Linked DNA regions of Homo sapiens. The protein of the gene in region 1 purifies or fractionates together with the protein of each later gene. This does not show direct contact. Each region holds a gene or a part of one and is shown in the gene's direction. Other genes may lie near its edges.

What was found.
Region 2: the proteins of RABL3 (region 1) and RAP1GDS1 purify together in Homo sapiens (affinity purification with mass spectrometry; 2 studies listed by BioGRID and IntAct, with this or other methods). This does not show direct contact.
Region 3: the proteins of RABL3 (region 1) and SPPL2B purify together in Homo sapiens (co-immunoprecipitation; one large-scale study listed by IntAct). This does not show direct contact.
Region 4: the proteins of RABL3 (region 1) and HTR2C purify together in Homo sapiens (co-immunoprecipitation; one large-scale study listed by IntAct). This does not show direct contact.
Region 5: the proteins of RABL3 (region 1) and TMEM185A purify together in Homo sapiens (co-immunoprecipitation; one large-scale study listed by IntAct). This does not show direct contact.
Region 6: the proteins of RABL3 (region 1) and RELL1 purify together in Homo sapiens (affinity purification with mass spectrometry; one large-scale study listed by BioGRID and IntAct). This does not show direct contact.

Annotation. Positions count from the first base shown.
Region 1 is NC_000003.12:120,700,852-120,704,769, reverse strand, and holds part of RABL3 (rab-like protein 3), read left to right. Parts: intron 1-3,918. UniProt on the Homo sapiens protein: Required for KRAS signaling regulation and modulation of cell proliferation. Regulator of KRAS prenylation, and probably prenylation of other small GTPases. Required for lymphocyte development and function. Not required for myeloid cell development.
Region 2 is NC_000004.12:98,421,659-98,425,576, forward strand, and holds part of RAP1GDS1 (rap1 GTPase-GDP dissociation stimulator 1), read left to right. Parts: intron 1-3,918. UniProt on the Homo sapiens protein: Acts as a GEF (guanine nucleotide exchange factor) for the Rho family of small GTP-binding proteins (G proteins) that stimulates the dissociation of GDP to enable subsequent binding of GTP.
Region 3 is NC_000019.10:2,352,561-2,355,890, forward strand, and holds the end of SPPL2B (signal peptide peptidase-like 2B isoform 2 precursor), read left to right. Parts: intron 1-385; coding exon 386-649; 3' UTR 650-2,535; downstream 2,536-3,330. UniProt on the Homo sapiens protein: Intramembrane-cleaving aspartic protease (I-CLiP) that cleaves type II membrane signal peptides in the hydrophobic plane of the membrane. Functions in ITM2B and TNF processing.
Region 4 is NC_000023.11:114,582,612-114,587,225, forward strand, and holds the start of HTR2C (5-hydroxytryptamine receptor 2C isoform a precursor), read left to right. Parts: upstream 1-1,474; 5' UTR 1,475-2,048; intron 2,049-4,614. UniProt on the Homo sapiens protein: G-protein coupled receptor for 5-hydroxytryptamine (serotonin).
Region 5 is NC_000023.11:149,625,153-149,629,070, reverse strand, and holds part of TMEM185A (transmembrane protein 185A), read left to right. Parts: intron 1-3,918.
Region 6 is NC_000004.12:37,609,760-37,613,420, reverse strand, and holds the end of RELL1 (RELT-like protein 1 precursor), read left to right. Parts: intron 1-78; 3' UTR 79-2,787; downstream 2,788-3,661. UniProt on the Homo sapiens protein: Induces activation of MAPK14/p38 cascade, when overexpressed. Induces apoptosis, when overexpressed.

The DNA of each region.
Region 1 (3,918 bases):
CTGGCCATAAATGGTATATTTAAACTTCAGTTTCAAATTTTCCATTGCTAGTATAAAAAAAAATAGAATTGATTCTGAGTGCTGACCTGTATCTTGTGACCAGAGTTTTTTAGTACAATCCTTAGGATGCTCTACATAGACAGGTTTATTTCTTCCTTTTCAATCTGTGTGCTTGTTGTCTTATTTCTTGCCTTTTCGCACTGGCAGCAACTTCCAAAAGGGTACTAACTAGGAGTGATAAGAGTGAATATCTATGTCTTACTCCAATCTTAGGGGGAAAGCATTCATTTCACTATTAAGTATGATGTCAGCTTTAGGTTTTTTTTGTTGACATCATTTATCAGGTTGAGAACATTTCTTTCTATCCCTAATTTGCTGATAGTTTTGTTAATATCATGAACAGATACTGAATTCTGTCAAAAGCCTTTTCTGCATCAATTGATATGGACATGTGGCTGCTTCTTTAGGCTGTCAGTATGGTGGATTACGTTCACTGATTTTCAATACTGGTGGATTACATTCACTGATTTTCAAATATTGAACCAGCCTTCCATTCCTTGGTCATGGTGTATTATTCATTTTATGTGTTGCTGGATTTGATTTGCTAATATTTTGTTGAGGATTTTTATCCATGTTCATGACAGGCATTGGTGTGTAGTTTTCTGTTCTCATAATGTCTTTGACTGGTTTTGGTGTGAGGATAATGTTGGCCTCATAGAATTAATTGGAAGTATTCCTTCCTCTTCTATTTTTTGGAAGAAATTGAGTATATTTGGTGTTATTTCTTCTTTGAAGGTTTGGTAGAATTTACCAAGAGACCATCTGGGCCTGGAGGTTTCTTATTTGAAAGGTTTTTAACCACAAAGTCAACTTCTTTAGTAATTAGGATTGTTCAAGTTATTTATTTCATCTTGGATGAGTTTTTGTAATTTGTGATTTTCAAGGAATTCCATCTATTTCATTAAATTTTTTAATGTATATCAATAGAGTTGTTTATAGTATTTGTTTATTGTCCTTTTGATAGTTGCACAGTTTGTAGTGATATGACCTTTTTCATTCTGATTTTGGTATTTTATGTCTTCTCTTTTTCTTGTCAGACTTGTAGAGGTTTATCAATTGTATTGATTTTTTTCCAAAGAAGCAACTTTTGGTTTCATTGATTTTTCTCTATTGTTTTTCCATATACAGTTTAATTGATTTCTACTCTTATTTCTTTCCTTCTGCTTGCTTTTGGTTTATTTTGTTCTCTATAGCTTCTTAGATTACTTACTGGATACCTTGCATTTTTGCCAATACAAGTATTTTAATGCTATAAATTTCCCTCTAAACACTGCTTTAGCTGCATCCTGCAAATGTTTAAATGTATTACTTTTATTTTCATTTAGTTCAAAATATTTTCTAATACTCCTTGAGATTTTCCCATAGGCTGTTTAGAAATGTGTTGTTTAGTTTCCATGTATTTAGAGGCTTTCCAGTTATTTTTTGCTATTGACTTCTAGCTTAATTTTATTATGATCCAAGAACATACTTTATATGATTTCACTTATTTTATATTTGTGCAACACCCGGTATGTGACCTGGGTGTTGTTGTCTCTGTTGTTTCAGTTTTCAGTGTCTTTGGTACACTAAGTAGGATCAAATCCATGCATGCACAGCTTTGGCAATGAGCTCAAGCATTCACGAACTACTTCATGGGGTTGCTTTCTCACACTTCACCCTGTCTACAGTCTCTGCCATACTTTGTGATTTGCTGGGGCTCCCTTTTTCGGTCCCCAGGCCAAATTTTCTCATGCACTTGCACAACTGCACCTATGTCCAGGGCCAAGTGGTAGAAGGACAAAGAATAAAAGCAATGGGAGTTTGCCCCACTGTCTTGAGATACAGTTCCATCAGTCAGAAAAATTTCCCTTCTGGGCCCGGCGCGGTGGCTCACGCCTGTAATCTCAGCACTTTGGGAGGCCAAGGCGGGCGGATCATGAGGTCAGGAGATCGAGACCATCCTGGCTAACATGGTGAAACCCTGTCTCTACTAAAAATACAAAAGATTAGCCAGGCGTTGTGGCGGGCGCCTGTAGTCCCAGCTACTTGGGAGGCTGAGGCAGGAGAATGGCATGAACCTGGGAGACGGAGCTTGCAGTGAGCCGAGATCACGCCACTGCACCCCAGCTTGGGCAACAGAGTGAGACTCCGTCTCAAAAAAAAAAAAAAAGAAAAATTTCCCTTCCTCTGTATTTGTAAGCAGGCGTTCCCAACCCCTGGTCCATGGCCTGTTAGGAACCAGGCCACACAGTGGGAGGTGAGTGGCAGGTGAGTGAGCATTACCATCTGAGCTCCACCTCCTGTCAGATTAGCAGAGGCATTAGATTCTCATAGGAGCGTGAATCCTATTGTGAACTGTGCATGTGAGGGATCTAGGTTGCAGGCTTCTTATGATAATCTAACTAATGCCTGATGATCTGAGGTGGAACAGCTTCATCCTGAAACCATCCCCCAAACACCTGTCCATGGAAAAATTGTCTGCCATGAAACTAGTCTCTGGTACCAAAAAGGTTGGGGACTGTTGTTTTTGAGCATTCTGCTTGTGTTATAGCCTTTGCCACAACTGTCATGAAATTGCTCAGAAGCTGGCTTACAACAGAAGGAAAAATATTGTATTTCTACACTATCTCCAAGTATTCGTGTGTCCCCTTTCTTGTTTCATGAGCCAGAACTATAGGCCTTCTTCTGGAGTATTCTGTTCACACTTTTGGGTTTTAAGCTGAGTTGCATTCAGACAAGGGGATATGGAAGGAAACTGCTAATTCAATGGTTCTTCACATTGCAGTCTTCCTTAATATGCTCACTATTAATTTTTCAGAGTCCTCAAATAGCCACTTCATGTATCCTGTCCAGGTTTTATAGTTGCATTCACTGGGAAAGACAGGATAGAGTTTGCTTATTCTGTCTTACCTAGAACAGAACCCCATTTTCTATCTTTTGATTGAAGCAAGTCTTTCAAAGGCTTTGTTTTCTGTGTGGAAGTCTAATTGTTATGTGAAACCTAAATATAGTATAAGTTTGAGTATATATATGTAGATTCCAGCAAGACCTAATAAAGAATAAGCACAACTAATTTAAAACCTATATTTCAAAGCCTCATTGATATTTATTTCCTATCTCAATTCCTTTCATCACTGATGTCTTCATTAACCTAGCTTGTTCTCTATTTTCTACTAAAATTTCTACTTAAGAAACTTATCCTTAAATTTAGGGTTAGGAGACAGCATATTCATATCAGAAAGAAATCTGCATTTTTGTCAGGGAATTCAGTAAAAGTTCTATACCCATTTGCATTTTGACACTACAGTTTCATTTTGATTCTATAGATAAACCTGCAAATGTATAAAACAACCTTAATACATTGGTGTGCTTTGTTGGTGCATTATTGTATAGCATCAAAAAATTTGGAAACAACCCTAGTGTCCGAGCAACGAAAGATTCATTGAATAAATAATGGCATATCCACATACTGGAGTAGTATTCAATGTTTAAAAAAGAATCAGGAAGATCTCTATGAACTAAAATAGAAAGATCTACAGAGGGTACATTATTAGGTTTAACAAATCAAAATGCAGAGAATATATATCGTATACCTCCTATTGTATAAGAAAGAAAAGAAATAATATGTATTTATATTTGGATAAAGAATCAGTGAAAAATAAGAAACTAATAAAAATGGTAACCTATAGGGGGCCAGGGGAGATGGGTGGATGGGTACAGTGGTAGGAGCAAGACTGCTTAGCATATATCTTTTATATCAGTTTGAGTTTTTAGCCATATTTAAACAATTTAGGTAAATTTTATATTATGTAGTTTTTACCACAATAACTTTTTTTAACTTTTTATTATAGAAAATTTTAAACATATGTAAATACAAAG
Region 2 (3,918 bases), on another chromosome or scaffold:
GGCATTGACCATGCAGCCTACTGATATTTAGAAATTAAATGGTACCTAGATAGTATATGATGTCCAGAGCTCACAGAGTTAGAAAAAAATCCATTCTTGTGGCTGGCTGTGCCGCTGTCTGGCACATGGTAGATAACCAATAAATGAACAAATGAGCTATTTTAAAGATCACAATAGTGAGTACCCAGGCCAGCAGTTCAGCAGCTGATTTAGTATCTAGATTATATGATTTTTAAATTTTTTAAATACTGTTTTCTTGTTGGGCGTGGTGGCTGACACCTGTAATCCCAGCACTTTGGGAGACTGAGGTGGGCAGATCATGAGGTCAGGAGATCAAGACCATCCTGGATAACATAGTGAAACCCCGGGTCTACTAAAAATACAAAAAAAAATTAGCTGGGCGTGGTGGCGGGCACCTGTAGTCCCAGCTACTCGGGAGGCTGAGGCAGGAGAATGGCGTGAACCCGGGAGGCGGAGCTTGCAGAGAGCCGAGATTGCACCACTGCACTCCAGCCTGGGTGACAGAGCAAGACTCCGTCTCAAAATAAAATAAAATACTGTTTTCTTTTTCTTTTTTGAGACTGAGTCTTGCTCTCTCGCTCAGGCTGGAGTACAGTGGCACAATCTCAGCTCATTGCAACCTCCACCTCCTGGGTTCAAGCAATTCTCCTGCCTCAGCCTCCAGAGTAGCTGGGATTACAGGCAGGCGCCACCACACTCGGCTAATTTTTGTATTTTTAGTAGAGATGGGGTTTCACCATGTTGGCCAGGCTGGCCTCAAACTCCTGACCTCATGATCCTCCCACCTTGGCCTCCCAAAGTGCTGGGATTACAGGCATGAGCCACCATGCCCAGCCTTTAATACTGTTTTCTAAGGTGACCCTTTCAGTCATTTCTCTTGTACAACTTCAGTAGTGATTATATATGAGGAGAAAGTTTAGAACTCAAATCCACCAGCTGTTTTCATTTATTTTTAGAACAGATAAGAAGAAGATGCCAAGAGAAAAAACGTAAAACTAAAGCTGTTCTTGTATAAATCTCTTTCATATAAATAATTGGCTTCACCATAATAGCTGTCCCAGCTGGTAAGCCTCAGGAGTGTTCTTCTCCATCAGATGCTAAATCTTGAGAACTTTCCCTGGGGAAAAGCAGCTGTTAACTAGGACCTTCCTATTACCTGTCTCACCCAGACCACCCTAAAAGCTCATACATTTTTCCTGACACAGGACCAAGCAGTATGTTGGCAAGGTGGAAGTTGTCAGGAGAGAATAGCAAAATGGCTTCCTTGGTACCCCTTTGACCCCTTCTCCATCATAACTGCTCTCTCACGCCCATTTGTTCATTTAACAGTTAATATTTGAGTTCTTGCAGTGTAAATACTAAAAAATAGTGTTTCTATAAAGGAATTAACTATCCGTTGAGGGGACAGAAATAAAAACAGCTAGCTTAAGTACAGCTTTAAAGCTACGTATGCTATTCGGGTGTAACAGAGGAAAGAAAGACTAACACACTGTCTGGGTAATCTGGGATGGTGCCATAGAAGGAGTGCTATTTTAGGCGTTAACTAGGAATCTCAGGAGGAAAGGGAAAGAGAATGAAGGAAAGGGCCTTTTCAGGCAAAGACAGCAGGATGTACAAAAGCACAGAGATGTAAAACAGCATAATTTTTTAAAGAAACTGCAAATAAAGCAGTATTGCTAGAACACAGAGTGTAGAAAGAGACAGTAGCCAGAGAGGTTGAAAACTGGGAATTAAGTGAATTATATACCAAGTTAAGATATATGGACTTGATTCTGTAGAGAATTCGGGAGCACTTAAAGGGTTTTAAGCAGCAAGTTGCCATTATTTGAGGGTTTTTTTGTTTTCTTTATTTTTTGTTTTTTTGTTTTTTCGGGGTTTTTTTGAGACAGAGTTTCGCTCTTGTTGCCCGGGCTGGAATGCAATGGTGCGATCTCCACTCACTGTAACCTCCGCCTCCCGGGATCAAGTGATTCTCCTGCCTCAGCCTCCTGAGTAGCTAGGATCACAGGCGTGCACCACCATGCCCGGCTAATTTTGTATTTTTAGTAGAGACGGGGTTTCTCCATTTTGGTCAGGCTGGTCTCAAACTGCCGACCTCAGGTGATCCGCCTACCTCGGCCTCCCAAAGTGTTGGGATTACAAGCGTGAGCCACCACACCCAGCCATTTAGTTTTCATTTAGAAAGATGTCTCTAGGGTTTAATGGGGGTAGAAAGGACAGTTATTGCAAAAATATATATGAGAGTTGATAAAGGACTGAATTAAGGTTTTGAGTTGAGCAATTTGAAATTGCTGATATTCAGCCATTTTTGAAACAAATTTCATATGGGTTATTCAACTAGAAGCAGCGAGGATGGAAAAGAAGAGACAGACCTGAGAAAAATATGGGTGGTAGAATTGACAGATTCAACAGTAGAATTAAAGGAGGAGGTAGTTTTAGAGCTAATTCCAAGTTTGGGGTTTACCACCAGATTGGGTTATCATGCCATTCAACAAAATAAAACACTATAGGAAGAGGTGCAGCTAACACTCCCTAAACTTGCCCACTCGCCCATGCTCTTTGGAGTCATTACCCTTAATCTTTTTGCTCTACTCCAAGAGAATCTCCACCATTGGTTTGCAGGGGTATACAATCATTTGGATTTCCCTGGGCCATATTGGAAAACGAATTGTCTTGGGCCACACATAAAATGCACTAACACTAACAATAGCTGATGAGCTTAAAAAAACAAAAATCACAAAAAAAACTCAAACACCTGTGGCATTTGAAGAAGAAGAGAAATCTAAAAGTTTAGAAAACCAGCTGAGTGCGGTGGCTCACGCCTGTAATCCCAGTACTTTGGGAGGCCAAGGTAGGTGGATCATTGTGGTCAGGAGTTCCAGACCAGCCTGGCCAACATGGTGAAACCCCATCTCTACTAAAAATGCAAAAATTAGCCAGGCATGGTGGCGTGCGCCTGTAATCCCAGCTACTGGGGAGGCTGAGGCAGGAGAATTGCTTGAACCTGGGAAGCGGAGGTTGCAGTGAGCCAAGATCGTGCCACTGCACTCCATCCTGGGTGACAGAGCAAGACTCCCAAGACTCTGTCTCCAAAAAAAAAAAAAAAACAAAGAAAACTTTTGGAAAACATATTTGGGAGAATAATCAAGGAAGACTTCTCCAGTCTTGCTAGAGACCTAGACGTCCAAATACAAGAAGCTCAAAGAATACCTGGGAAATTCATTGCAAAAAGATCATTGCCTAGGCATATTGTCATCAGGTTATCTAAAGTTAAGACAAAGGAAAGAATCTTCAGAGCTGTGAAGCAAAAGCACGAGGTAACCTATAAAGGAAAACCTATCAACTTAACAGTGGATTTCTCAGCAGAACCCCTACAAGCTAGAAAGGATTGGGGCCCTATCTTCAGTCTCCTTAAAGAAAGCAATTATCAGCCAAGAATTCTGTATCCAGTGAAACTAAGCTTCATAAATGAAGGAAAGATACAGTGTGTTTCAGACAAACAAATACTGAGAGAATTCACCACTACCAAGCCAGCACTACAAGAGCTGCCAAAAGGAGCCCTAAATCTTAAATCCTGGAAACACATCAAAACAGAACCTCTTTAAAGAATAAATCTCACAGGACCTACAAAACAAAAATACAATTAAAAAAAAAGTGGGGGGTATACAGGCAACAGATAGCATGATGAATGGAATAGTACCTCACATCTCAATACTAAGATTGAATGTAAATGGCCTAAATGTTCCACTAAAAGATACAGAATTGCAGAATAGATAAGAATTCATTAACTATCTGCTGCCTTTAAGAGACTTACCCAACACATAAGGACTCACTTAAGGTAGAGGGGTGGAAAAAGACATTCTATGTAAATGGATACCAAAAGTCAGCAGGAATAGC
Region 3 (3,330 bases), on another chromosome or scaffold:
CCCCAGGGAGAAGTCTCCTGGGGCCAGCACCCCCACCCCAAAGGTCTCCCCATTCTGATGGGCATTTCAGAAGGTTCAGGAGAAGCCGGGGACCAGGCCCAGGGGCGAGAGACGGTAGTCCAGGCTTTTCTTTGGAGAGGCTTTGCACAGCTCCCAGCCTCTGCTGGCCTCGGATGGCCCTCCCGCGGCACCTGTGCCGATGGACAGGGTCCTGGGTGCCCGTAGGTTATGGAGCCGGCCCCCTCCTTGGGTCCAGAGCCCCTGGGGATGGCGCCTCATTTTGACCCTGCCCCCGTGGCCTGCGGGTGCTGGGTGTCCTGGCCCCTGCCAGGGTCCTCCTCTGGGTCCCTGTCTCCGCCTCACCTCTGCCTCCCTTCTCCTGTAGAAAGTCCTACCTCCATCTCCGTGGGCCCCAGCACCAGCCGACGGCCCGCAGCCTCCCAAAGACTCTGCCACGCCACTCTCCCCGCAGCCGCCCAGCGAAGAACCAGCCACATCCCCCTGGCCTGCTGAGCAGTCCCCAAAATCACGCACGTCCGAGGAGATGGGGGCTGGAGCCCCCATGCGGGAGCCTGGGAGCCCAGCTGAATCCGAGGGCCGGGACCAGGCCCAGCCGTCCCCGGTAACCCAGCCTGGCGCCTCGGCCTAGGGGAGGGGTGAGACGCTCGCTGCCGTGCCCGCCACACCAAGATGTTGGGGCTGCCTGGCGCCCACTGGAGACAGACAGACAGACGCCTGTCCCCCGGGACCGAGGCCTGTGCCGTCCCCACCCGCCCCAACATGGTGCTCATCCTTGCCGAGACCCCTGCGGTCTGTGCCCGCGCCCAGCCCAGCTGCCCCGGCTGCACGCCTGCTGCTCCCAGCTCGCCCGGCTGCCACAAGCTCTCTGCGGGTCCATCCTCCCCACCGGGGTCCGTCCTCGCAGGCCCTGCCCGGCCTCTCTGCAGACCCTCAAGCGTCGTCTGCATGAGTGAGCAGGCGTGGGTGGACTCTGGCCGCGGCCACACTTGGTGCTCACCAGCTGCTTCGGCCTTCAGGTGACCTCCCTCCCCACGGCATCCTGCTCTCCGGGTGGAAGAGCAGCTTTCTGTCTCCCAGAAGGCATCGCTTTTCCCTCTTGAGCAGATCGGAGCCCCTGGGAGGTTTGGAAGCTGCCTCCAAGCCTAGGACACGGACCAGTGGCCGGGGCGGCCTCTGGCCCCTGACGCTGGCTGAGACAGGCCCGTGGGGCGGGGTTTTGGGGCGTGAACAAGGCTGGCAGTAAGTGGACAAGCTGCTCCCCTGGCTAAGGCCCTGCCCTGCCCTCAGCCAGAGGTGCCTGGCCATGCCTGCACACTCCTCCCCATTTTAATAAATGGTCGCAACTTCTAGAAGTCCTGCTGGTGCCACCTGGTGGGGTGGACGTCTCTCAGACTGCCCTTCTGACAAGCAGGGGTGGGCGCCAGGCAGGCTGGGTCAGGCCCTCAGGGGTCCCTGGAGCCCTGGGAGGGAGGGACTGGGTCGTGGGAGGTCCTGGTAGCTCCCGGCACCCAACCTCGCTTCCCGTGTGGGCCCCGTGTTGCTTTTCTGCTGAGAGGGGCTTGGGCCTCGGTTCTCCCTGTGGCAGCGGCATTGGTGCCTGGGTTCTTAACCCTCTGGACCCAGCAGCTAGGAGCTTCTGGAACCCACGAGGACATCTGCCACTGGCATGGTCTACTCACTGATGGGGTCCTCCTGACTCCAGGGCAGAGACGTCCGTGCGGGAACTGACCGAGGCGTGGCCCCAGGCCCCGGCATCCTCCCCTCGCTGCACGTGGTCACTTCCGAAGCAGCGCTCCCTGTGGCCGCAGAGACAGAGCCCGCACCCTGGCTGTCTGTGGTGCCTGGGCCCCAGCTCCCGCCCGCCACCCGCCCTGTTGAGTGCGGCCTCCAGACTCGAGTCCAGAATCTGTTTCTGTCAAGTCAGTCGTCCCCAGCTGCACACGGGGACTGCTGAGCGCTGCGCTCTCACGGGTCTGTTCCGGACAGAGGGTGGCAGGGGTGAGCCCTGATCCCTTACAAAAAATACCAGCTTCCCAGGGAGTAATGGCGCCTTCACTGAAGCCATTTTGTACATGGGGACGGGGTGGGGACGTCTCTTTTTTGGTGTTGGACGTTTGACCAGTGGGGAGGGGTTCAGAGGCGGCGGTCCTGTCCTTGGCTCCGTCTGTCCGTGTGGCCTTGCTGCCATTCCGTCTGATCATTAAACACAGCTTTTGATACATATGGCCCGGCCTCTGCCTCCGCAGTGCACGGCTTGGGGCATCTGCTCTGTGCAGGTCCCGGTGAGCAGAACTGAGAGCTGGCAGGCCGCCTGGCTGTCCTGCAGAGGACGGATTGGAATTGCCACCGCAGGGCCGGCCAGTGCTGTGAGGTGCCCAGCGTCACTCCCATGGGCTCTGTGGGCCATGTGGTCCCTGTCACGCTTCTCAGCTCTGCCACTGTTGCTGGAAAGCATCACAGACCATGTGTAAAATGGGCCAAAATACCTTTTACAAAATTAAAATAGAGATGGGGTCTTGCAGTGTTGCTGAGGCTGATCTCGAACTGCTGAGCTCAGACAATCCTCCTGTCTCGGCCTCCCAAAGCGCTGCAATTACAGGCACGAGCCACCACGCCCATCCCTCAAGTAATTTTCTCGCCAGACCCTGAAATTGGAATTGTATAGCATCCTCACGTCTCAAAAGAGTTTATTATTATTTTTTTCTCTTTAAAAATGCAAAGACCTGTCTTAGCCGCTTTGGGACAAGGTTTGGTTTCCAGCTGCTGCTGGCTGGCGCTGGGCCTGTGGGCACGTGGGTGATGGATGCGGGTTTGTGTGCGGGCCGAGAGGCCAGTGAGTCCTGAGCATCTGCCAGGCATCAGGGGCTGCTGTGTGTGTTGTTCTAGTCTCACAAAGTTCTCCGCTACGTTAGAGAAAGTGAGACCCAGGCTGGGCATGGTGGCTCACGCCTGTAACCCCAGTGCTTTGGGAGGCTGAGGTGGGAGGATTGCTTGAGCCTGGGAGTTTAAGACCAGCCTGGGCAACGTAGCAAGACCCCATTTCTACACAAATTACCTGGGTGTGGTGGCACACACCTGTAGTCCCAGCTGTTCAGGAGGCTGGGGTGGGAGAATTACTTGAGCCCAGGAGGTCAAGGCTGCAGTGAACTGTGATCGCACCACTGCACTCCAGCCTGGGTAACAGAGCGAGACCTTGTCTCCAAAAAAAAAAAAGGCCACCAGCAAGCCTCTGAGGCCACATGGCTGTGAGGGATCAGAGACATGGATTCCTCCAGGCCCTGAGCCAAACCACGACTGCCTGGCAGCGTG
Region 4 (4,614 bases), on another chromosome or scaffold:
GAATAGACTGGACAGCTCCTTTCACAAATATGGAAACAGAGGCACAGAGAGAAATGACTGTTCCTAGGGCATCCAGAATAAGGAAGGGGCCTGACCCTTATCATTGCTTCCACTTCCTTCTCCATCTCTAACTTTTGGGGCTACTGAGGCAAACTTCGGCCTTCAGAATAGCCGGCAGCTCCCACCCCTTTTGCGTTCTGCCGGGTTAGGTCCTCCAAGCCTCTCTCTGTACGGCCTCTCTGTAGCCTCTTCTATACACTCGCTGCGCTGCCGTCCGGTCCTAAGTAGCCAAACCGGAGGCTCGATCTTTTGCTTCGGTCCAGCTACCTCCGACAGGCGGGGAGCCAATCTCCACTTTTCCCACCCCGGTCCTCGGTACAGGGCCGAGAAACCTCGGCCGCGACCCGAGACCACCACCCCCGCTCGCCCCTTCGTTCCCTCTTAGGAGAGATCTGCTTCTGTCCCCATTCTCCGTGGGATCATCTCCATTACTCAGCTTGGTTTTGGTGCCTCTGAGCCAAGGGGGCCCCGTTCACCCTTCTCTGCGCTGCCGCCAGGACACCGCAGGCACCTGCCCGGTTGCGCCTGGGAGCCTGTGAAAAAGAGCTCTGCCTGACCGGTTAGAGCTCTGCCTGACCGGTTGCAGCTCGGCATCCCAGCAGTTGCCAAAAGAGAGCCTTTGTGGTTCACCTCTTGCTGCCTTGACCTTGCATTGACAGCACCCCTCCCTCCCCCACAACGACTGGGCAACCGACTGGCTGTGGGCCCAAGGCCCTGTGCCAGAGAGATATGTTCACCCCCTTGGAAACCCGTAAGAGCTGCCCTCAAGGTGTCTTTCTAATGAGGCCTGTGGGGTCAAGAAAGGAACTAAACTGTGCCTTCCCGGGGCTCGAAGGCCAAGAGCTTTTCTTTCTCCTTTGGGGTTAGGGAAAGGATGGGGAGACAAGGATGGGGAAGTGGGCCTTATAACAGGATTGTGGCCTTTGCGCACTCACCAAATGTTTGACCCTGTGAGTGCCTCAGTTGCTACTGTTGGAGGAATGGGCAAGAGTCGGAACAGAGACCCTTGAAGGGAGTTTCAAAGCTTGATGAAATTTGCAAGACTTGAGAATGCTGTTTGTTGAAATGAAATGTACAGGGGTGTGTGTGTGTGTGTGTGTGTGTGTTTGGGGAGGGGTATGCTATGAATCTTTGAGGGTACATTCTTGAGAAAGCCTTCCCTCTCTCTCTATCCGGTGCCATGGCTGATCCTGGTTCCCCCTACTCTCTAGGCCTTGTGAATCAGATTAATCATCACCCCCACCCCCATCTCCACCATGGGGTCTCGCGCCCCCTGCCAGCAGGCTCCAGATGCACTAAGAGACCGGTCCAAACAGGCCCGGGGGCCACGTAATGCTGAGTGCTGATTGGCTGCTCTTGGCTCCTCCCCTCATCCCGCTTTTGGCCCAAGAGCGTGGTGCAGATTCACCCGCGCGAGGTAGGCGCTCTGGTGCTTGCCGAGGACGCTTCCTTCCTCAGATGCACCGATCTTCCCGATACTGCCTTTGGAGCGGCTAGATTGCTAGCCTTGGCTGCTCCATTGGCCTGCCTTGCCCCTTACCTGCCGATTGCATATGAACTCTTCTTCTGTCTGTACATCGTTGTCGTCGGAGTCGTCGCGATCGTCGTGGCGCTCGTGTGATGGCCTTCGTCCGTTTAGAGTAGTGTAGTTAGTTAGGGGCCAACGAAGAAGAAAGAAGACGCGATTAGTGCAGAGATGCTGGAGGTGGTCAGTTACTAAGCTAGAGTAAGATAGCGGAGCGAAAAGAGCCAAACCTAGCCGGGGGGCGCACGGTCACCCAAAGGAGGTCGACTCGCCGGCGCTTCCTATCGCGCCGAGCTCCCTCCATTCCTCTCCCTCCGCCGAGGCGCGAGGTTGCGGCGCGCAGCGCAGCGCAGCTCAGCGCACCGACTGCCGCGGGCTCCGCTGGGCGATTGCAGCCGAGTCCGTTTCTCGTCTAGCTGCCGCCGCGGCGACCGCTGCCTGGTCTTCCTCCCGGACGCTAGTGGTAAGTTGGAGCCCCGGGCGGCATTGCTAGCCGAGACCCCAACGATTTAGGCGGGGGATGGGGTGGGGAGCGGGGACAGGTCCCGGATGGCTGCAGCCTGCAGGACCGCACTGGCCCTAGCGGAGGTTGGGGGGAGGGACTCTGAACGCGCAAATCGCGAGGAGACTGAGTCTCTGGAAGAAGAGAGGAGCTTAGGTTCCACGGAAGGAGCATAGAAGTCTCTAAGGGGATTGGGAGCGGGGGCTCGAGATGAAGACGCTGGGCGGAGGCGGGGGTCTAGAGAACCTGGCGCGGGGGAAGCCGAGACAGAAACGGAAGGCGGGGGTGGGGTCTCAAGAAGTGAGGAGTGGGAGGAGAGAAAGGAGGGAAACTGAACGCAATGTCGCTGAGTAGAGGGTCGGGCTGCGGAAGATGCAACTGAGTTGCAGGACCGACTACAATTTTAAGAAATCCGACAGCAGGCAAGTGGGAGGGGGCGCAAGGTTTGGGACAGTGTGTGCAGAGGGGGAACCAAGGATCCTTTATTATGTTCTCATTGAAAAGCGACCCTAATTTTTCTGGCGGGTCTCAGCGAACATCCGTAACTCTGGGGAGATAACACACTGCGGATCTGTGTTTGGTCTAACAGCTGTTAGCTGAATTTGAACAGCGCTGCTGGTGATCACGTAAGCTTAAGAGGAGAGGATAAAGGCATCCAGTGAACCTTTTTTTAAATAATTAATTAGCTTATCTAAGTCATTTGGTTACTGTTCTATATTTTGAAAAGGATTGCGAAAAAGTCTCCAGCGCTGCCTCTTATTCCTGTACTCAGTTTTACCTGACAAGCAGTCTTTACAGCGTTCCTCGGAATTGCTAAACATGAGAACAGGTTGCCGTTCCTGATGTCACATAAAGTTCGTCATTGCAAAACGTGTCTGTGTGTCTGTTTCTTTTCTGCGCCATGCCCTTTGCCTTTTGCTTCCTGTTGGGTAGTATGCGACTTGAGGTGACAAACACTTGCATTGTGTTTGAGAACCCTGTATTTTAAGCAACAGAGCTCCCCAACTCATAATTCAGCGAGTGACATTCGGCAGTTAAAAGATTTGGTCTGGAATCACTGCCAGTACCGCGCAGCTTCTTCATTAATATTACCAGTATAAGTCCCATCCAAGGAAGCCTCTGATTGCTGAGCCACTAAGTGCATATGCCCCTTACCTCATACCTTTTAGGCAGGCTAACCGAGGGACGCTCATATATGGTTGAGCTAAGATGATTTGGGGGGCGGGGGGTGAGGAAATGCGGCGCACTGAGTAACCTCTGAGCTCCCCAGTTTGCAGACAATTGCGACCTCACATACACGGTAATGAAAAAAGATATCTGGGCTCCAGAGTTTAAATTTTTCATGAAGAAGTTTACGTACATATCAGCCATTCTGACAATCAAAATATGAGTGCAATAGAAACAAGGTGTTACTGTGTAGTTGGCTACATATGTGTAGAGACAATGACAAAGGCCAACTGACATGCCCCACAGAAAATGATATCTACCGTGATCATTGCATCTCTTTTGCAGTACTGAAATCATACTGAATATTGTCTGTTCTGAAGAGTATAATCTCCTTAGCACCTGGCTGTTTGGGAATCATCTACAATGCCCCCCCATTCCACCCCACAGGTGGGGGGAAATAAATAATTTTGTCCATATTTTGGGGAGGTAGGTTATAGAATATTTAATTATATTTTTCATTCCTTAAATAAATTCTCCTGATCCTCCTGGGGAGGGAAGAAAATATTTGTTTCATCAACATGATTTCTTTCCTAATAGCGTCTATCATCTACAGCAACAAGCCCAACGCAAGTCCTGAAATTCGGAAGGTGGATAAGGCTTGTTGATTGCAATGTCAAGGTAGGATTTGGGGTGCTTTAGCAAAAATGACGGTGTTTTTCTATCTGCATTATCTAGAGAGGGTTATTAACCCTTTCTATGCTTTCTTGAGGGGTTTATCTCCATCTAGAGGTGTCATGGATGACAGTGATGACTTTTTCAGATAATGTAACAGGCTTTTGTGCAGTATGAATTCATCAGAAAAGAGGTGAGAACTGATATTTCTGGGAACCTCCTGGATGCCAGACGTGGATCCAGGACTATTACATATATATACATAAAATATATATTATTTCATATAGTCTTCATAGCAAGTCTATGAATGACGGAGATATTATTATCCTCCATTTTATCGGTGCCATTAGATTTTTCCCCTCAATTTTTCAAGGTATTCTCAAAAGTTAATTTAAGGCAAGAGAATAAGAAATATTTATTTGTGCTTCCAAGTCTACTTGGGAAGAGCAATAAAAGTAAAATCTAAAAAGCCTAACATTCTAATAGATTCATCCAACATTATAATTGAGTCAAGCCTCAATAATTTTACTGTTCCATGTATTTCCTTCAAGGAAACGTCATCCCTCTCCAGCTAAGGGAAACACAAAAATTAAAACAAAATTTGGGGGAGAGATTATAGTAACCAACATTAAATATCCTCAGCTATTCTTATTAAATTGTTCAAGGCCTGAGATTGAAGGAGGTTGCA
Region 5 (3,918 bases), on another chromosome or scaffold:
CATATTTGTACCCTTGTGTCTGTCTGGATGCTTATTTGATTAATACCTGCCTCCCCCACTAAACTTTAAGCTCCATGGGGTCAAGGCCGTGACTGTGTCAGTATCGTAGCCTGCATACTTGGAATAGTACCTGGCTCAATAAATATTTGTGGAGTAAATAACTGAATAACTCTCCAGAGCCTATAAGATAAATCTAGAGCTGCTGCTTTCAATCACTGCTTTCCTGGTGGTCTGTGGCCTGGTTCTCTTTCTTCTCACACTCTTCCCACCTTCAGAGTGCAGCCATTGCTTTGGAGAGATGGGAGAGAACATGGCACTAAGGCAGAATATGGCTATATTTACTTTGAAGAGCATGTCTTTGTCATAGAAATAGTCACTGTCATGGTTTGGTGGGTCCCAAGGCATGGGTCATGGCTCCAGATCCCCTTTCCAGCCTTTTGGATCTTGGTAAGTCTGAACCCACTGCTGCGTTGGCAAGGCTCTGGAAACTATAGTGACAGAGAATGATTCACAAGTGTCAACACTCAGATGTACAGGGCTGCCAGCTGACCCACTCTACCTATTTCCATCTGGCACTGAACTGGTTGATCATGAACTTCTTTTCATAATTGCTTTTTAGTTATGCAGGTTAAGACATGCCGAAACAGATGTACCGGACCCACAAACAAGTCCTTCCTTGAATGCCTGAGGCTTCCTAACAGTGAAAGAGCCCTGTTCTTAGAGTAGGCAAACTGATTCTGAGGCATTGTAGGTGGTAGGGATCTGGTAGTAGGTAGCATTAGGTGGGCTCCCGGCACTCACCATGGAGCCTTGAAATTTTCTGCTACTTTGGGGGAGTTGCTGGTTCAGAGAAGGCCCTTCCACCCTGGTAGCCATGTGGCACTGGAAGGCTGTGAAAACTCTGCTGGGCCTTCTTAGTCATCTGTTGTGAGCTCCTGATGGGAGTGTGGTGTATCCCTCAGGTGTGCTAGACTGGAACAAAGGCTGAGAAGTGTTGCTCTGGGGGTTCCAACTTGTGGGCATGGGGTACTGATGAGATCAGTAGTGTTTGGAGACTTCTGTATGCTCCATCTTCAGAAGACATTCTGGAGTCCATATAAGTTATCTTGTCTCTTGTTTGAAGCAGGAAAAAGGAATGCGATTGCTGGTAATATAGTTCACTAAAGTCAGCTACCTGGCCTCTAACAGTTATTTGCAAAGTATATTATAACATTGATTCCTCAAACATCTAGATTCCTATCTCGTGCCAAGTGATGTACTAGGTGCTCTAAGTACAAAAATAAAGGAATATAGTCCTCCTCTCAATGCGTAAGCCTAGTGGAAGAAGCAGAAATGAAAGGGAAATAAGAATTCAATAGAGTATGAGGCATTACAGTGAAAGAAACCAAATGTCTTAGAAGTACAAATGGCAGAGCTACTAATTCTGTCTCGAGCAGGCAGGGAAGAGTCTATAGTGGAAATGACTTTTGAGCTAGATTTTGAATTGAGCTAGTCTTTTGAGCCAGACTTTTGAGCTAGAATTGTAGGGTTGTCATCAGACCAGAGAGTAGGAAGGGTACCTTGTGAGGAAGAGAGAGAGAGATCAGATTGTTACTGTGTCTATGTAGAAAAGGAAGACATAAGAAACTCCATTTTGATCTGTACTAAGAAAAATTGTTTCTGCTTTGAGATGCTGTTAACCTGTAACTTTAGTCCCAACCCTGTGCTCACAGAAACCTGTGCTGTAATGAATCAAGGTTTAATGGATTTAGGGCTGTGCAGGATGTACCTTGTTAACAATATGTTTGCAGGCAGTATGCTTGGTAAAAGTCATCGCCATTCTCCATTCTCGATTAACCAGGGACACAGTGCACTGCGGAAGGCCGCAGGGACATCTGCCCAAGAAAGCCTGGGTATTGTCCAAGGTTTCCCCCCACTGAGACAGCCTGAGATATGGCCTTGTGGGAAAGGAAAGACCTTACCACCCCCCAGCCCGACACCCGTAAAGTGTCTGTGCTGAGGAGGAGTAGTGAAAGAGCGGGGCCTCTTTGCAGTTGAGATAAGAGGAAGGCTTCTGTCTCCTGCTCATCCCTGGGAATGGAATGTCTCTGTGTAAAGCTGACCATTCCCATTCGTTCTATTCTGAGATAGGAGAAAACCACCCTGTGGCTGGAGGCGAAGTATGCTGGCAGCAATACTGCTCTGTTACTCTTTGCTACACTGAGTTGTTTGGGTAAAGAGAAACATAAATCTAGCCTGCGTGCACATCCAGGCACAGTACCTTTCCTTGAACTTATTCATGATACAGATTCCTTTGCTCACGTTTCCCTGCTGACCTTCTCCCCACCTGTTGCCCTGCTACACTCCCCTCGCTAAGATAGTAAAAATAATGATCAGTAAATACTGAGGTAACTCAGAGGCTAGCGCTGGTGCGGGTCCTCCGTATGCTGAGTGCCGGTCCCCTGGGCCCACTGTTCTTTCTCTATACTTTGTTTCTGTGTCTTATTTCTTTTCTCAGTCTCGTCCCACCTGACGAGAAATACCCACAGGTGTGGAGGGGCTGGCCCCTTTCAGTATCTCAGAAGGGACAAAGTACACAAAGGCATGGGGTCATGATAGTGCCTGGTATGTTCAGGTAGTGAAGAGGTCCATGTGGTATGAGCACTGCAGATGATATGTGTCGTATGAATTAAAAATACATAGTTACTGCAAATAGTTTTTACAGGTTATTGTTTTTAAGAAAGCAGTATCTAATGCACGAGTGTACTGTCAGTACTGTCAATGAACTACTTACCACTCAAGTGACTGCTTATCTGTTGTTCTGTCCTCTCAAGCCACCTACAGTCAGAAAATGGTCTTGATTTTACTGATGTTGCTGTTAATAATAGCTGTGACTTCTTGAGTACCCACCACATGCCAGGCCCAATGTAGGGGCTTTGCATCCATTATCCATGATCTTTACAACAACCCTGCAAAATTAGGTATCAGCCTTATTTTAAAGTCTTGACAGCTTGTGACTTCCCTGAAGTTGCATAGGCAGGAAGAATCTAAGTCAACATTCGAATCCACGTCAGTCTCATGAAGCCTGTGCTCTTTCCTGCGTGCCATGCCATAGTTCTAGTTAAGTGACAACTCCTTTCCTCCATGACATTGTAGATCCAGTATGCTAAGGAACCCTCTATTTACAAATTGTAAGTGATTAAACAAAACAAACCTGTTAGTGGCGCTTATACATCCAAATGAGTGTTGTTATTCAAAGAGGTTACTTGGGGAAAGAGAATGTATACACCTATTCCATTGTTCATACTCCTTGTTACTCATCTGGAATTCCCTTTAAAGTCAGTTTACATATCACATAAGAAGATCCATCTCATTGCTTTATGATCATCTATCATTTTCAACCAAAATAGTTCCACCTAGTTTGATCACACATCTTATTCACTAACCTTGGCTCTGACTGACTGTTTGCCATTTCCAAAATTTGAATCCACCCTCAGTGAAAATTTAGCACCATTTGGGATAGTCAGAAGATCAGACTGCAGGTTCTCAAGGTGCTTCCAAGAAGAAAGCTTCAAAGATGATTTGAGTAATGAAGTACCATTGGAATTACTGCATTGCCTCCCAAGGGGACTGGTTAAAGGAGAGAAATCTCATTTGAATGTATAATTTCCAGTTTTAAAAGTATCATTCCTATTACTTGATAATTACACACACATTGTTCTTAGCTGTGTTCTTTGAGGGCCAGGATTTGGAGGTGCTGAATTACGTGCTGAATGAGTGGATGTTGGGTACAAATAGACATCTACCACTGGGAAGTCTTTGTTGTACAGGAGAGACCGTGGATTGAAGGAGTTTTAGATAGTTTCCTAGGACTCCAGAAGTTAAGCTTTTTAATATGGAGCTTGAGTTTTCTAATCATTTTGCCTGATATGTCATGCC
Region 6 (3,661 bases), on another chromosome or scaffold:
TAAATATTCAGGCAGATTAATATGTGATATGATGCTTACCCTTGGTTAAAGATCTACATTTTTTGTTTTCTCTTGCAGCAATGACTTGACTTGAAGAGCTCTAAGAGACTGAAAACTTATATGAAGTTGCCTTGGGAATATTTTTATATATTTTATACAGTTTCTATCATGGAGTCAGCAGGCACGTGGATAAAACCTAAAAGGGAATATTATTGCTGTGCCATATACAGAATTCAGTTTGCTTTGAAACAAGTTTTGGTTGAAAGAGTCTGTTGAAAATTTTATTATACTTCCAGGGAAGGAAAGAGCTGTTTTTATCTTCTTAACCACTCCCAGCCTCTACTCTTCCCAGCCCCTAATCCCAGGCCTTGGTGTACACACTGTAGTTTTTCCATTATGATGAGTATGTGCAGTGATACTATTCATGTACAGTCTGAGCTTATGCTCAGGGGTGTGTGTGTATATGTGTATGCATGTGTGCACGTGAGTGTGTGTTTCTTTTTCCAGTTCCTGCATCCTATTTTGACACTGGTTGTAAGAAGATCTTGATACATACAGGTTAGCTGTTACAAAAGATAAAAGATGAATCTTCAGTGGTAAAAGCTCAGTGGAAATAATCTAGTTAGCCCTGAGGAGTTGATTCCCCAAGGGACCATGGAGTCAGATGGGACCAGATGCTAGACTTTGGATTCCTTGACCACAAATTCAGCATTAACTCCTGCCACCACCATGTCACTCCTACAGCACTTACACATTTTGAGAAGGTTTTTTTTTTTTTTTTTTTGAGGCAGAGTCTCGCTGTGTCCCCTAGGCTGGAGTGCAGTGGCACAATCTCCACTCACCTCAATCTCCACCTCCCCAGGTTCAAGCGATTCTCCTGCCTCAGCCTCCCAAGTAGCTGGGATTACAGGCATGCACCACCACGCTCGACTAATTTTTGTATTTTTAGTAGAGACGGGGTATCACTATATTGGTCAGGCTGGTCTTGAACTCCTGACCTCAGGCGATCTACCCGCCTCGGCCTCCCAAAGTGCTGGGAATATAGGCGTGGGCCACTGCACCCGGTTTTTTGTTTTTTTTTGTTTTTTTTTTTTTTTTAACCTTTAGCTGAGCGATTCTTGGTTAATCCATTGAATAAAGGAGAAAATGGTTGAAAGTCACACACACACAAATTTGTTTGGACAACCCAAGGCCAAAACAAAAGAACCCTGCTTCTCTCTTTTTTTTTTTTTTTTTTTTTTTTTGAGGCGGAGTCTCGCTCTGTCGCCCAGGCTGGAGTGCAGTGGCACGATCTCAGCTCACTGCAAGCTCCACCTTCTGAGTTCACGCCATTCTCCTGCCTCAGCCTCCTGAGTAGCTGGGACTACAGGTGCCCACCACCACGCTTGGCTTATTTTTTTTGTATTTTTAGGAGAGACGGGGTTTCACCGCATTAGCGAAGATGGTCTCGATCTCCTGACCTCGTGATCCACCCGCCTCGGCCTCCCAAAGTTCTGGGATTACAGGCTTGAGCCACTGCGCCCGGCCTAGAACCCTGCTTCTCATATAAGATGGGCCTGCACCTACCTCTGGCATGTTTTTCTTTGTGTATTTCCTGTTTTTCATCCTGTAACTAATGCTCATTATTTAAAACACTCCAGTTACTTTTCCCTTTAGGCCTGGCAAACTTTTCTTTTTCTTTTTTTTTTTTATAACTGTACATTTTACAAAACACCTGAAAGGACCCAGAGGCATAAATAGTATTACATGATTTATGGTAGCTCTGGGGTGAGCTGTGGGGGAGGCCAGTTACAAGGTCTCCAAGACCCGCCTCCATGTCAGTGTTGGGGGGTGCCTTGAGCACTTCTTTTATTTCATATAGGAAAATGCACATCTTTCATTTGTCTCCCAAAAGATGATTTCCATAAAAATATACTTCAAAGTATTTACTGTACATAGACTTCAATGATTTTATTTCCAGCATCAAACTAAACATTTCTAACCTTTTAAATAAATGGGGAATTTAGTTTCATGAGAATTTTTACTGACAACTAATAAACACTGTATGTGTACATATTCATATACACTGTGGACTGGAGAAAGTCAGTATGGAAATAAATTTCACTGAGATCCAGAAAGTAGCAATATAGGACTTTTAGGGGTATGTATTAGTGTAAATAATATATGTGCAGTCTAGGCTAATCATTTTAATTAAAAACAAATAAGCATACTTTTTTGCTTTAAAAATATGCCCTCAAAATGGTGGGGGATAAAATGTAAGATATTCTTTAGCTTTAATTATTTTTCCATCTTATTCAAGTCAGAGCACTTTTTTTTAAATAGCAATACAACAGGCAAGAGAATACTCAAAAATATTTAAAACTGTATTGATACCAAGAGTATGTTTTAAATATTTTCTAATAAATACTTGAGCGGTTTTTGTCTGGCAGGCTTCCAAATTTGCCAAAATTAAGCGTTCAGTATTTTCAACACATACGCTTTTTACTGGTTTATACTGAACTATCTGATGAGAATTCCTGTGTTCCCAAAGCAACTGATGTTTACAGGTCTTGTGTTACTCCTCCTCCTTTCTAAGGATGAGGGAATCCACAACAGACTTTCTCTAGAAAACACTAATGATGGACAACTTTTTGGTGTCATCAATGAGTTGGCTACTACCTTGATGTAAAAATTTGTAAGGAAAATTTTCACCATTTCGAGTGTCAAGTGTATTTTTAACTGTCTGGTTTGTACTTTTATGACTTTTGTACTACCAAAGCGGAGTTAAAAATAAAAATGTTAAACGCAGTGTGTTGTCTTGTGGGTGATCCAATTATTGGCGCCTTGTACACTGGAAATACAGTCGTGGCAGTATAATTATTGAGCTTAATTTTTTACAGTGCTGAATTTCTTGTGTCTTGAAATATCAAGTGATCACTTGGCTGACTTTCCTCATGAGATTTCCCCTCCTGCAGTACCCCTTCCCCTAACACAGGCATACTTTGGAGATACTGTGGGTTCAGCCCCGGCCTACTGCAGTAAAGCAAATATTGCAATCAAGCCAGCCACATGAGCTTTTTGGTTTCCCACTGCATATAAAAAAGTTATATTTATACTATACTATAGTCTATTAAGTATATGCAATAATATTCTGTCAAAAAACATACATACCTTAATTTAAAATACTTTTTATTGCTAAAAAAAAATACGATAATCTGAGCCTTCAGCAAGTCATAATCTTTTTGCTGCTGCAGGATCTTGCCTCAATGTTGAAGGCTACTGACCAGGGTGGTGGTTACTGAAGGTTGGGGTGGCTGTGGCAATTTCTTAAAATAACACAGTGATAAAGTTTGCTGCACTGATTGACCTCACCTTTCATGAAAGTTTTCTCTATAGCATGCAGTACTGTTTGATAGCATTTTATCACAGTAGAACATCTTTCAAAATTGGAGTCAATCATCTCAAAATCTGATGCTGCTTTATCAACTAAGTTTATGTATTATTATATTCTAAATCCTTTGCTGTCATTTCAACAGTGTTCACAGCATCTTCACCAGGAGTAGATGCCATCTCAGGAAACCACTTTCTTTCATCATCTGTTAAGCAATTCCTCATCTATTCAAGTTTTATCATGAGATGGCAGCAATTCAGTTCAATCTTCATGCTCACTTCTGATTCTAGT